Linked DNA regions of Homo sapiens: region 1 is linked to region 2. The links come from fine-mapping of genetic effects on gene expression. A gene starts in region 2. The other region holds a variant in brackets. All regions are shown on one strand. Distances are from middle to middle.

Region 1 (5,387 bases), 850 kb before region 2:
AAGCATCAAATTAAATTTTCTACCAAATTCATATTTGCTGGGTTAGTTCCTTTTCTCTCCTATGGTGGCTATAAAATCCATGCTAATTACCCATCAACCTCACAGGGATGAAGCCAGGAGTAAATGGCAAGGAAGCAGCTGGAAACCTCTGAGTACTGCATATAAATGGGGACAGGAGATTACCCCCACTTGATCTGGCAAGACTGGGCCAAAGCCCTGGGCCAAACCCTTGCATCCCCAAGAGACTGCCAACAGGAGCACCAGCTGCACTTTAAAGCAGAAAGTCTAGAACAAGAGCCCTCTGGGAGCAGACAAAGTGTGTAACCGCAAAAAGTAATATTCAGCCTACCAGGGAGTAGCCGTTTCCCAGGATCAACAGAAGGCTAAGAGGTTCCAAATTTCTTGTGAAAGCAGGTAATTTAGCCACAGATTTTTGTCTATCATGGTATTCTTTGACGTTTTTTCTTCCAACATTAGCAGTCACAAATAACATATTGAATGCTTATTATGTAATTGTCATTCTTCATTCATCGTCTGATTTAATTCTCATAACAATTCTGTGAGATAGTTGTTTTTATTATTCCTTGTTTATAGAAGTAATGGAGACTGGAGAGATTAAGTAACTTGCCCAGGGACTTGTAAGGTGGAAAGCAAACTGCAGACATAGAATTATCTCAAGAATTTTCTTTCATAATCATGATGGTTCCAAGATTTTCCATGACTTTCATTTAATTCCCAAATATTTCATTATTATCTTCTTGCCTTTCTTTCTTAGTTACTATCTGCTCTCTGACTACTACAAGGATAGAGCACATATGCGTGTGTGCATGCACACACACACACACCATGCAACTATTAACCAGTTCCAACCTTGGGCTGTGTTAATGCCAGGGAAGCACCCTAAGGGGGCAGTAATTTCCTGTCTCAACTTAGAAAGATGTGAGCCATGGTTCTCTCTATTCAATATGCATAACCTAAAGAGAAATTTCAGAATGTGCCCACTGGGAAAGGAAAGACTTTTTGAGTTTACTCTGAAGGCCTTGGCAAAAATCCAAATATTTGAATTTATTTTGTTTCTCTTCTGAGACTGTGAAATGCTTTTAAGTGTCTGCTAAATTTTGCTCTAATATATAGCAGTAGGGAGGTGCTTCATCTCCCTGGAGTCACTGGAAAAGCTCACAGAAGCGAGTTTAAGAAACAAACCTGAAAAGTGGTACAAGTCAAGCCTGTCTCTCCTCAGAGGCATCTGCAGGCTGTAAAGTGTGCTGACAGGAAATTCAGCTACCCACACGACTTTACAGCAGCTACTCAAACCAGTTTTACATTTATCCTGTGACCAGAGAGGAAGAGGAAAGTAAAAAACATTAAATGTCCTTTGCTTGGCCTCTCATACTGTTTCAAAGCATGAATGCTTGTAAAGTTGTTTAGATATCAAAGCAGACAATATGTGCTGGGTTTTATCTTGAAGGAAAAAAGAAAAATAATGTTTTGGGAATAGAGAATCTTCCAACAAATATATCTCCCATTAATGGTTTTAACTCTGGAGAAATGTTAGTCCTTATAGGATCATCAAATAATCATAAAGTGAAAATACATACTTAGATGAACAAAGACTGAAATTCATCTGTTTCACTTTTTTTAAACAAAGGGCTCCTAACAGTTCTCAGTCAGCTGTTACAATGTTTAATCATAATTTGGGCAAAAATAAAAATCTCCCTTTCTAAATGAATTCTTCTCTTGCTTCATATTAAGCCCACTACTTGTCTTTCAATCCCAGTGGAGATAGATGATAATTGGACACAATCTTTTTCACAATTCCCTTTCAATAGCTTGAAAACAGTTATGAATCTTCATCTTAATTTTTTAAACCCTCAGTATATTGACTCTCTTATAATTCATTGTCAAAATGTCCATTACTATATTTCCTCTTGATTCTCTCACTTCTCTAGAAATATACTAAAACACAAAGACCAATATTAGAGCAATTTCCTAATAAAAGTTTGAATACAAATAAATATCCTATAATACTTGTTTCTAGCTCTCTAATATCAACTACTTCTAATAGCTTTTAAAAGTAAACACTGTTAATCACTTATTGATTTTGAATTTATGATTCTGGTAAAGTGACTTACTTGTTCTACCTAGTTTGGGATAGTTTCTTTGGACATTTTATATCAGGATAAATTAAAAATATCTGTTATATGAAATTATACTGCTCCCTAAAGGTTAATATCAAATTGACTAAATATCTCTTCAATTTATGACATGACACATGGAATTTTACACATTTTCCCCAAGGTATTAGGAACTTAACCAAAATAGTGTCATCAATAATTGGATAGGAACAACATCAATTCAATCATCTGGAGAATTATAAAAGCTCAGATGAGGAAGAGCCCTTTAGAGGCAACCTAGTACAAACTTCCCACTCTGAAATGAAAATGAAAGAACAACAGATGAAATATCTTGATCAGCTCTTAGTGATCCAGGCCTGATCCCCAGGCTCGGTTCTTCCCATGTAGTATCCCTTCCGCTCTGTTCCACAGCCAATTCTCATTCAGAACACCAGAAAAATATGCTGTTATGGTTTGTTCTATGTTATTTTTCCTGCTTTTCAGCCACAGAAACACCTTTGTCCTTTCCCTGACTCTCTTTCTTCACCTAGGTAACCACTGTCCATTAATTAATTCAGCAAATATCCA[T/C]TGAGTTACTCAATGAATTCCAAGAGTATTGCCAAACCAAAGAGTAATACAATAAATTGATGCAAGTGTAATAAAAATATATGCTAAGGAGTTCTCAGACCCTTTTACCCTTTTCACACAGGGCTAAGTTCACAGGCCTGAAAATCAAGATGTCCAAGGTAGGGATAGGTAAAGCAAGAAAAGACTGGAGATACTGTCTAAGGAAGAGGGCTGTTACTGAGGATAAGTGGATTAAAAAGCCTGGATTAAAATATGTCAAATAAGAGAACTGTAGAGCTTGGTTATGTGGCATCAAAGAGAAGTCTAGTCCATTTAACAGTTCCTGATTGTTTCTGGATTAAAAAAAGGAAATTTTGTTTCTTAATTTCCTTTCTATTATCTATGTCACATCTTAGGCTAATTAATGCAAAACAATATAACTAAGTTATACAACTTATGAAATAGATGCATGTCACACCTAAGGAATTATCCATAAGATATATAAGCTTTGATCCACCAAGAAACTATTCATTCAATGACTATGTATTTTGTATCTATACAAAATTTTCTGTTCTTTCTAGTACCAAATGTGATCATTATAATAATTCTGTTACTTTTATTACATTCATCAGTCACATGTGACATTCCTGACTATAGAGTTCTTTCTACAAGTGTAATTTACTAATATCTACTAACAATCTCACTAAAAACAGCAGTTGTTCAAGGAAAACATTGCCCTTTATAATACATGTACAGACATCTAGGAATACATCAGACATGTGCATGTTCAAGTATGTATTACAAATAAGTCATGGGGTCATGAAACTTGGCAAGGTGATTTATTTTTATTTATAATGCTATGTAGAAGACATATTTCTAATTGTTGTCACAACTTGAAATATGTACTTCTTATTTTTGTGTTATCACATAGTTTATCAATTACTATCAAGCACAGGATATCTTGAACCTTTCATATATTATTGAAATATTTTCCTAGTTGCAAACACTGTGTGTATTGGAAACAGCATGGGGCAAACTGCCGCTTTTAAACCATCAGATCTCATGAGAACTCACTTACTATCATGAGAACAGCATAGGGGAAATTGTCCCCATGATCCAGTCACCTCCCACCAGATCCCTCCCCCAACACATGGAGATTACAATTCCAGATGAAATTTGGGTGGGAACACAGAGCCAAACCATATCAGTGTGCTAAAAATAGATGATGACATCCATGTAAGACACCTTCATTTTCAGTTCATCTCTCTTCAAATAATTTGTCACCCTTTATAACATGTGAACAACTAGATTGAATACTGAGAGAGAATATACAAAGGAGGCTTTACTCTGTACCTCACTATTATTATAGCTTGATTCAATGTAGAATTTTCTACAAACAAAACCCTAGAATTAGAGAGACAGTGAATTTCCAAATCATCGTGTCATTGTCCAGAGCCACTACCGAGGCACCAGAATAGGAAGTGAGTGGTTCTGATCCCTGAAGCATGATTAATGATCCTGATGTCACTGGCTATCTTTCAGCATGCAGTGGCCACATACTGCAACGCAGAGGCTATAAAAAGTGCTCTGCAGATATGCATTACCTCAGTTCATCCTTCCACAGACCCTGAAATGCAAGTAAAATGTAAGGCTGAAATTGGCAGATTAGTTCCATGCCTGTATAGTAATCTCAGCACCGGCTTGAGACACAGGCTACTCTGAAAACAATCTATGCTAACCTCAGGCCCAGCTCTCTCTTTTGGTAGTGAGTATAATGAAGTAACAGGAGCTCTTGAAAAGTTCATTCTTCAGAAAAATGACTTTCATTGCCTATGTGCTTGTCACTATGTTAAGTGTAACACATAATTTTTTTTACTTACTTTTACAATGATCCCATTAAGAATTGAATTCTTATTAACATTTTACAGATAATGAATAAGAGTCAAAAAGTAAAATAACTTTAATAAGGACAAATGTAAGAGCCAAGATTCAAGCCCCAGTCTGTCTGTGTTTCTGTGTTTTTTTCCATAGCATCACAATGCTACAAATAAAAGGTTTAATGCTGTGAAATAGTATTTGTTTTCAAAACTGCAATATAAAAAATAAGTGTTTTAATTTTTTGCAAAGTTATATAATAGTAGTATTTTTTGGAATTGTATGTGTACCCAAAACATTTTTTTTCTTTTTGAGAGCATGCCACTCAAATAAGAAACTATTCCATCTCAGTTAACTTATGTGGGAAAAATAAAAAACACACATTTCAATGAAATGATGAAAGGAAAAAGAGAGTAGTGTTTTTAATTTATGAAGACATGAGTACTACCAATTGTTTAGTTATCAACCTAAACAATTCTGGAAAATAGAATTTATGAAGTTTACTTTCCCTTAAAACAAAAATAAACGGTCAAGTAAATAGATGTAATATAGGGGAGTTAGTATCCTTCCCCTACCCTCCCTGTAGAATCATACACATTAACACATCTTTACTCATTGTGAACCCTTTTCAGAGACAAAAAAGACACAGAAATCTGAACCAAGAGGCAGGCCTGTATTGAGATAAATGTCATGTCAACTGATCTGAAACTACTGGAAACACTAGCTTAGGAGAATGTGAATAAAATGGTAAACATTCCACTGAAATAATCATAAAATTTATAAATCAATATACATTAAGAACATAATAACTTACATAAAACCAAAGTGAAA
Region 2 (5,387 bases):
CACTTAACGAATTTGTTAACTGCTAATTCCCAGGTCTGACCTTTTTCCTATACTGTGTGAAACTGGCCTCATCTTCATTCCCAGAATTTAGCTCTTTATCTGGCACGTACTAGGTATTCAATGTTTGTTGTATGAATGAGATAAACTGACATGCTACAGTAACTAAAACTGAATCTTGGTATTGTCTATATCACATGTGTCTCAAATTTAATTAAATCTATCAAGCAGGAAGCCTATTAAATGGTCCTTTGTGATCTGTACCATTATAATGAGTACCAACATTCAGATGGATTTAAAATCAATTTAAAACAAAGCATAACATGTTTCCCTCAAGCAGGCTGACCCTTAAGTCATCACGGGCATATTTTCATTTAAATTCTTCACACTTTCGACTCAAGAAAATTAGAGAAGCATACCTGCTCTATATCCTTGGAAGTGGAGGTCTGGTTTTCTCCCATGATTCCAGGTTGCTCATTTTCCCATGGTAATTTATTTTTTCCTTTTCCTGCACTTAATACCCTTCGGGTACAGATAGTTGGGCTGTAAGATCCATAAATGTGCATGCTATCCCTCACGTGGTCACCACAGTGACAGTGTGCACTCTGAGTTCTGTTACCAGCCAAAAGCCAGTCCGTATCTGCTCCATGTGCCAAATGGTTTGACCTACCCCCGGCAGAAGATGGCATCAGTACTGCATATTCCACAAATCCCTGCTCTGTGAGCCTTGGTAAGGTTTTCCTAGCCAATCTGGCCTGCACAGCATTCATCACTCCATCTCCATTATCTTGCAGTTCAACTGTATCCACAGCTTTAAAAAGGATGCTGGTTTTACCTGAGCCCATTGATGATGCCAATACGGCAAAAGCTTCTAAAGCTGCTTGGCGTACCCTGCGTTTGCTATCTACAAGAGCTGGGGCAAGATCAAAGGACAGTTTGGGCAAGTCAAAATCCTCACTAGGATAGGTCAGCAGGGAGCAGATGCAAATGTTCACCACCTCCTCTCTCACTCTGGAATGCTTATGTTTGAGATGTTCCAGGAGTAAACAAAGCACCTGCTGAGGTCCTACTTCCTTCATTAGCTTGAGGAAGATTTTCATGTATTCTTGTTTGATCACCAACTTGTTGTCCGCCAGCACTTTGACAGAAGCTGCTATAACTGGTCCCAAGAACTGCTGTACCTGCTCTCCAAGGCGAATAACCAGTAAATGCAGGACTTCAAGTGTGCCATGCACCACTTTGAAGTTAGAATCGTCTAACAAATTATATAGCAAACTAATGAAGCCAACAAGACTAGAATGAGGAGTAGAACTAGGGTTAAATTTTCCCAGCACCTGCTTTAGTTCTTCGACGGCCTGGGTCCGGTTCTTATAGTCTTCCTGATCCAATAATCGTGAATGCAGCTCCTGAGGAATAATCCCAAATTTAAGATTGCTGTTGGAAAGAGTCACTGCACAGGGAAGGGGATCTTCAGGAAATCCAGAGGCTTCAAGTTCCAAATAATAAGGAACCTGACTTCCAAACTGGGACTCCAGGCGGCGATTGTAGTGTCTCCTCAGGGCAGAGGGCAGACGAGAAATGTAAGATTGAAACCTGTCTTGGCCAAGTCGCTCCCCAATTTGTTGAAGTGCGGAGAAAGCTGTCTCAGATTCTTCTTCTGTCTCCTGATCACCAAGCTTTCGGGCTAGGGATATTATCACCTCGGTGAGATCCAGACCAAGCAACAAGTCCTCAGTAGTAAGCAAGATGGGAAGCAGTAGTGCTGTGGAAGCTCTAAGTCGGGCATCGGTACTTTCCAGTCCTTGTTGTATAAGCGTTCTCAGCACCTCTCCAGGACTACGTTTCAGACATATATGAAGGATCTGCAGCGCATCTTTCCGCAGGGCTGGATTCTCTTCCCGTAACGAGACAACTAGTTGAGGCAAAAGTGCTAAGCTAAAGGCCTCTTCAAGCTGGCCTGCCTCCCCCTGACCCCGGAGAACGTCCGAGAGAAGTTGCAAGCAGAGCCGCTTCTCATCACTACCTCCTTCCACAAGCACTCGGCCCAGTGCCCGATACAAAGCTTCCTTGCGTCGGGGGAAGCCAAGTCGACCGCCCCGCCGCGGCAAAGCAGCTTGCAAAGCCTGGAAGGCCTCAGAAGGATCCCGGGCAGTGCGGAGGAGTTGAAGGAGCCGAGTGTCCTCTTCATCTCCCCCTGACAAACCGCCTCCAGACTCAGACCAGCTGCTTGAGACTGCCTCCGAGGGCATCAAGAGGGCCGAGGCCAGAGGCGAAGTTGTAGTGGGGCAGGAACCGTGGTCCCCCGCAGCTCCACGGAAGTAGTAGTTTTTCTCTCCTCTCATAATGCCCCCAACTCGACTATCATCGGTCTCTGGGGCGGAAGGACGACTGCGGCTCTGGAGCCGATAGGTAGAGAGGACTGGAAAGGGCGGCAGCAGAAGCAGCGCGGAGGGGGCAGCCGCCATGCAGGGTTGTCAGGTGGTGGTGGTTGGAAGAAACCATTGCCGTCTCCAAAGGGCTCGATGGAGCCCAGACTTCCAGATCCTCTCCAAGCCCCAAGCTGCAGAAGAGGCAAAAGAACAGCTTCAGCCTGCCGCCAGGCCGCCCCCAACTCCGGGAGGCAGCCTCTGGCAAAATGGCCCCCGTCTGAGCCCTAGACCCCACAGCTGCCACCGGGCGTAACCAAGGGCACCACGTGACCAAACCGATTGCTTCCATGGTGATGTACCCAGCGCGGACCTCTTGACCCGGAAATCCACTTGCCGTGATGAATGCTGGGTTATGTAGTCCACGTCAGGTGTTGAGACTAGGCCAAAGTCTCCTGGAAGAGGAAGTCAGAACGTTGTAAACGCAGCTACAGCGGAGAAGGGAGGAGGGGTGAAGCCATTTGACGGATGTGACGCTTTCCTTGCTCTGGGCGGAAGTTGCCCGCCCCACCCGTAAGAGTTAGGGTTTGACCGGAGCTAGTGAGGATCCAGCCCAGGCTCCAGTTGTCCGCGGTTCCTCCTCCTGTCGCTGCCCGTGTGATTACTGAGACTCAGGTATTTTCCTTTTGCTGTCCTCCAGCGGTGCAGGCTTTGGCAGTGTTTTGCCCGAATGCCACTGGTGCTAGAGTAAGAGGCAAAGGACTGAGCGGAGCAGGTGGAAAGAGAGGCGACATCTTCTTGTGCAGGGCTCGTCACCCTTGTAAACGCGTTACTCTCTACCACCCTGAGTAACTGCGATCCTTTCCTCTTGCCATCTGCTTATCAGGACAGAAGATCTGGACCACGGCCAAGCTCACAAATCGGGTATTTTTTTTCAATTCCTGGTCTTTGGGGCCTTTATTCGCCTCCCCCTTCTCCTTTTGTCGACTTCTCTTAACCCTCCGGCCGCAGAGGGTTAATTTTTTTTTGTTTTTGTTTGTTTGTTTTTGGCAACGTTTCCTTACCCTCATCACTTTGCGTTTTCTTTACAACGTACATAATATGGAAATAGGTCTGTTTTTTTCCCCCTGTAGCTAACCGCCTCTCCCTTAGACGTTATCAAAATCTTTCCTTCTAATGCAGTTCCTCTGTGGGACTCTCCCCTAACCTCCGCCCCCTCCGTCTGCCGCCCTAGCCTCCCTGCAGGATCCTCAAGCGTCTCTGCAGCCTTTCAGTCTCCTAGAGACAGAGATTGCGAAGACAATTTCACTTGCGGTGGAAGTTCTTGGCATCATGGTTCTAAGAGAATTCTGCCTTGTGGATTTAGGAATGATAGTAGACATTTATTTATTTTAGGCGAACTGAGAATTTTGTGTGCATTTTCTCCTCATAAGTGATACTTAAACGGACACAGTGGAAGAGCTGGAGTGTCTAGTGTGAGCCTGAATGCTTTGGAGTGTGGAAGAGATATTTTTTTTTTTTGAAGGAATAATACTATTACTTTTGAATGACTCGTGCGAAAAGTCTAAGTTATCATTTGAAGACCCAAATTTATGCACTTCAAATGCAAGTATTCCTACCCTGCTCTGTACCAGGTGGGATTTCTCTTAAATACTTTTTAAAGTCTTGGAATAAATGAGTCACATATGCCAAACAGCTTTATAAATAATGCTCCCAGCTGATGCAAGTGCAAAAATAATTTCTGGATTTTTGCCTTAAAGTACGATTTGAATATCAGTTTTGTTTTGTTTTGTTTTTGGGGGGGTGGGGGTGGGGAATAGACTATAATGTAAATGAGGCTGTGTAAATATACATCCTATGTTTTGGTTTAAATTCTAGGCTGTTACTTTGGTTTTAATGAGCCATTTTCGTGTTTAAATGAATCTGCCTAAATTAGGTTTAGCTAGCATGTTTCATTTTAGGGACAGGTTAAAGACAGGGAGGTGAAAAACAAGAAATGATTGTAGCAGTTGTCAATGAGAAAGTGTCTGGTTCTCACAGTTCCAACCTAAGAAGCTCAAATGTGTAGACTTCTAGTCATGTATTGCCCAGACTTGAGGAACCCAGTTCAAACTAACCTAGACAATGATGTACACATTACAGTGCCAGTTTATGTTGGATCAGAATTTTCAAGTTGAAAATCCAGTGCACTCTTTCTTGTATCCAAGAACTTGGGAAGCCAAGTTAATAACTAGAGGTTGTGTGGTAATCATGGAATCACAGAAAAGGAACTTCGAAAGTCTTAAATGAGAGACGTGGATACTTAAGCAGTTATCATGCCCTTTTCCTGGGAACAAAGCAAGATGAGTCTTCCTTTTGATTCTTGTTTTTTTAGATCCCTGTGGATCACTATACATTACAGATTGCAATTTATTTTTTATCTGTTACATTTTGTCTCTTTGATTGAAGACTTAGAAGAGGCATTAGTCTCCATAGTGGATATTTAGGAAATGGGACTTCATCAGCATCACGTCTTACTGATTATCTTTTAGAGTTATTTTGTGGAACATAAATCTCATTCATTGAGTGTGTATTCTTTTTATTACGAAGCAGATTTTTTTTAATCTTTGGAAATCTAGGAATTTCTCGTATATTGACTTAAAAAGCCTTTTGTATTTAATCATATATAGAGAGAGTACAAATTTGTAATCAATTTTTAGATAGTAGAATACACTATTAGGTGTTTTATTAATAGTACACCTCAGAAAGTTAAAAGGAAGTGGTTAAGGATACATTGAAAATTGCAAATTCAGCTAAAACAAGTTTAAAATTTCAATAATTTCAAGAATGTAGTTAAATTAGTGAATTATAGGAATGTGTGTGCTACATATGTTAATTTTTTTAGCTGAACTTAAGGGTAAACACAATTGCCCTAAAAACTTACTTTATTTCCAGAATCAGAGATAACACATTAGTTCCCTGGGCGAATCACTATGATTTTTCTGTGTTCTTACTCAAATTTTACAGACATCCAGGAATATTGAA

Which allele goes with the higher level. Alleles are on the strand shown, and positions count from the first base shown. SD is a standard deviation of normalised expression in the study named.
With allele C in place of T in region 1, the expression in caudate of the gene that starts at base 2,937 in region 2 is higher (moderate effect, 0.60 SD a copy in GTEx).

What was found. PIP is the estimated chance that this variant, and not a neighbour inherited with it, causes the effect.
Region 1: its variant is the best candidate, but not a certain one, in a credible set for the expression of KLHL28 in caudate (GTEx, PIP 0.70).

Annotation. Positions count from the first base shown.
Region 1 is chr14:45,806,194-45,811,580 of GRCh38, reverse strand. No RefSeq gene overlaps it. Among named protein-coding and RNA genes, the nearest start is that of LINC02303, 93 kb to the right of the region's middle. RefSeq lists an enhancer at 1-505. The variant T/C (reference allele first, on the strand shown) is at 2,703.
Region 2 is chr14:44,959,497-44,964,883 of GRCh38, reverse strand. It overlaps KLHL28 (kelch like family member 28), which reads left to right and starts at 2,937. Exons shown (of 5, transcript NM_017658.5): 1 at 2,937-3,038. It overlaps TOGARAM1 (TOG array regulator of axonemal microtubules 1), which reads right to left and starts at 2,694. Exons shown (of 20, transcript NM_001308120.2): 1 at 417-2,694. The coding sequence starts at 2,462. RefSeq lists enhancers at 2,237-2,751, 2,401-3,210, 2,752-3,266, 3,781-3,870.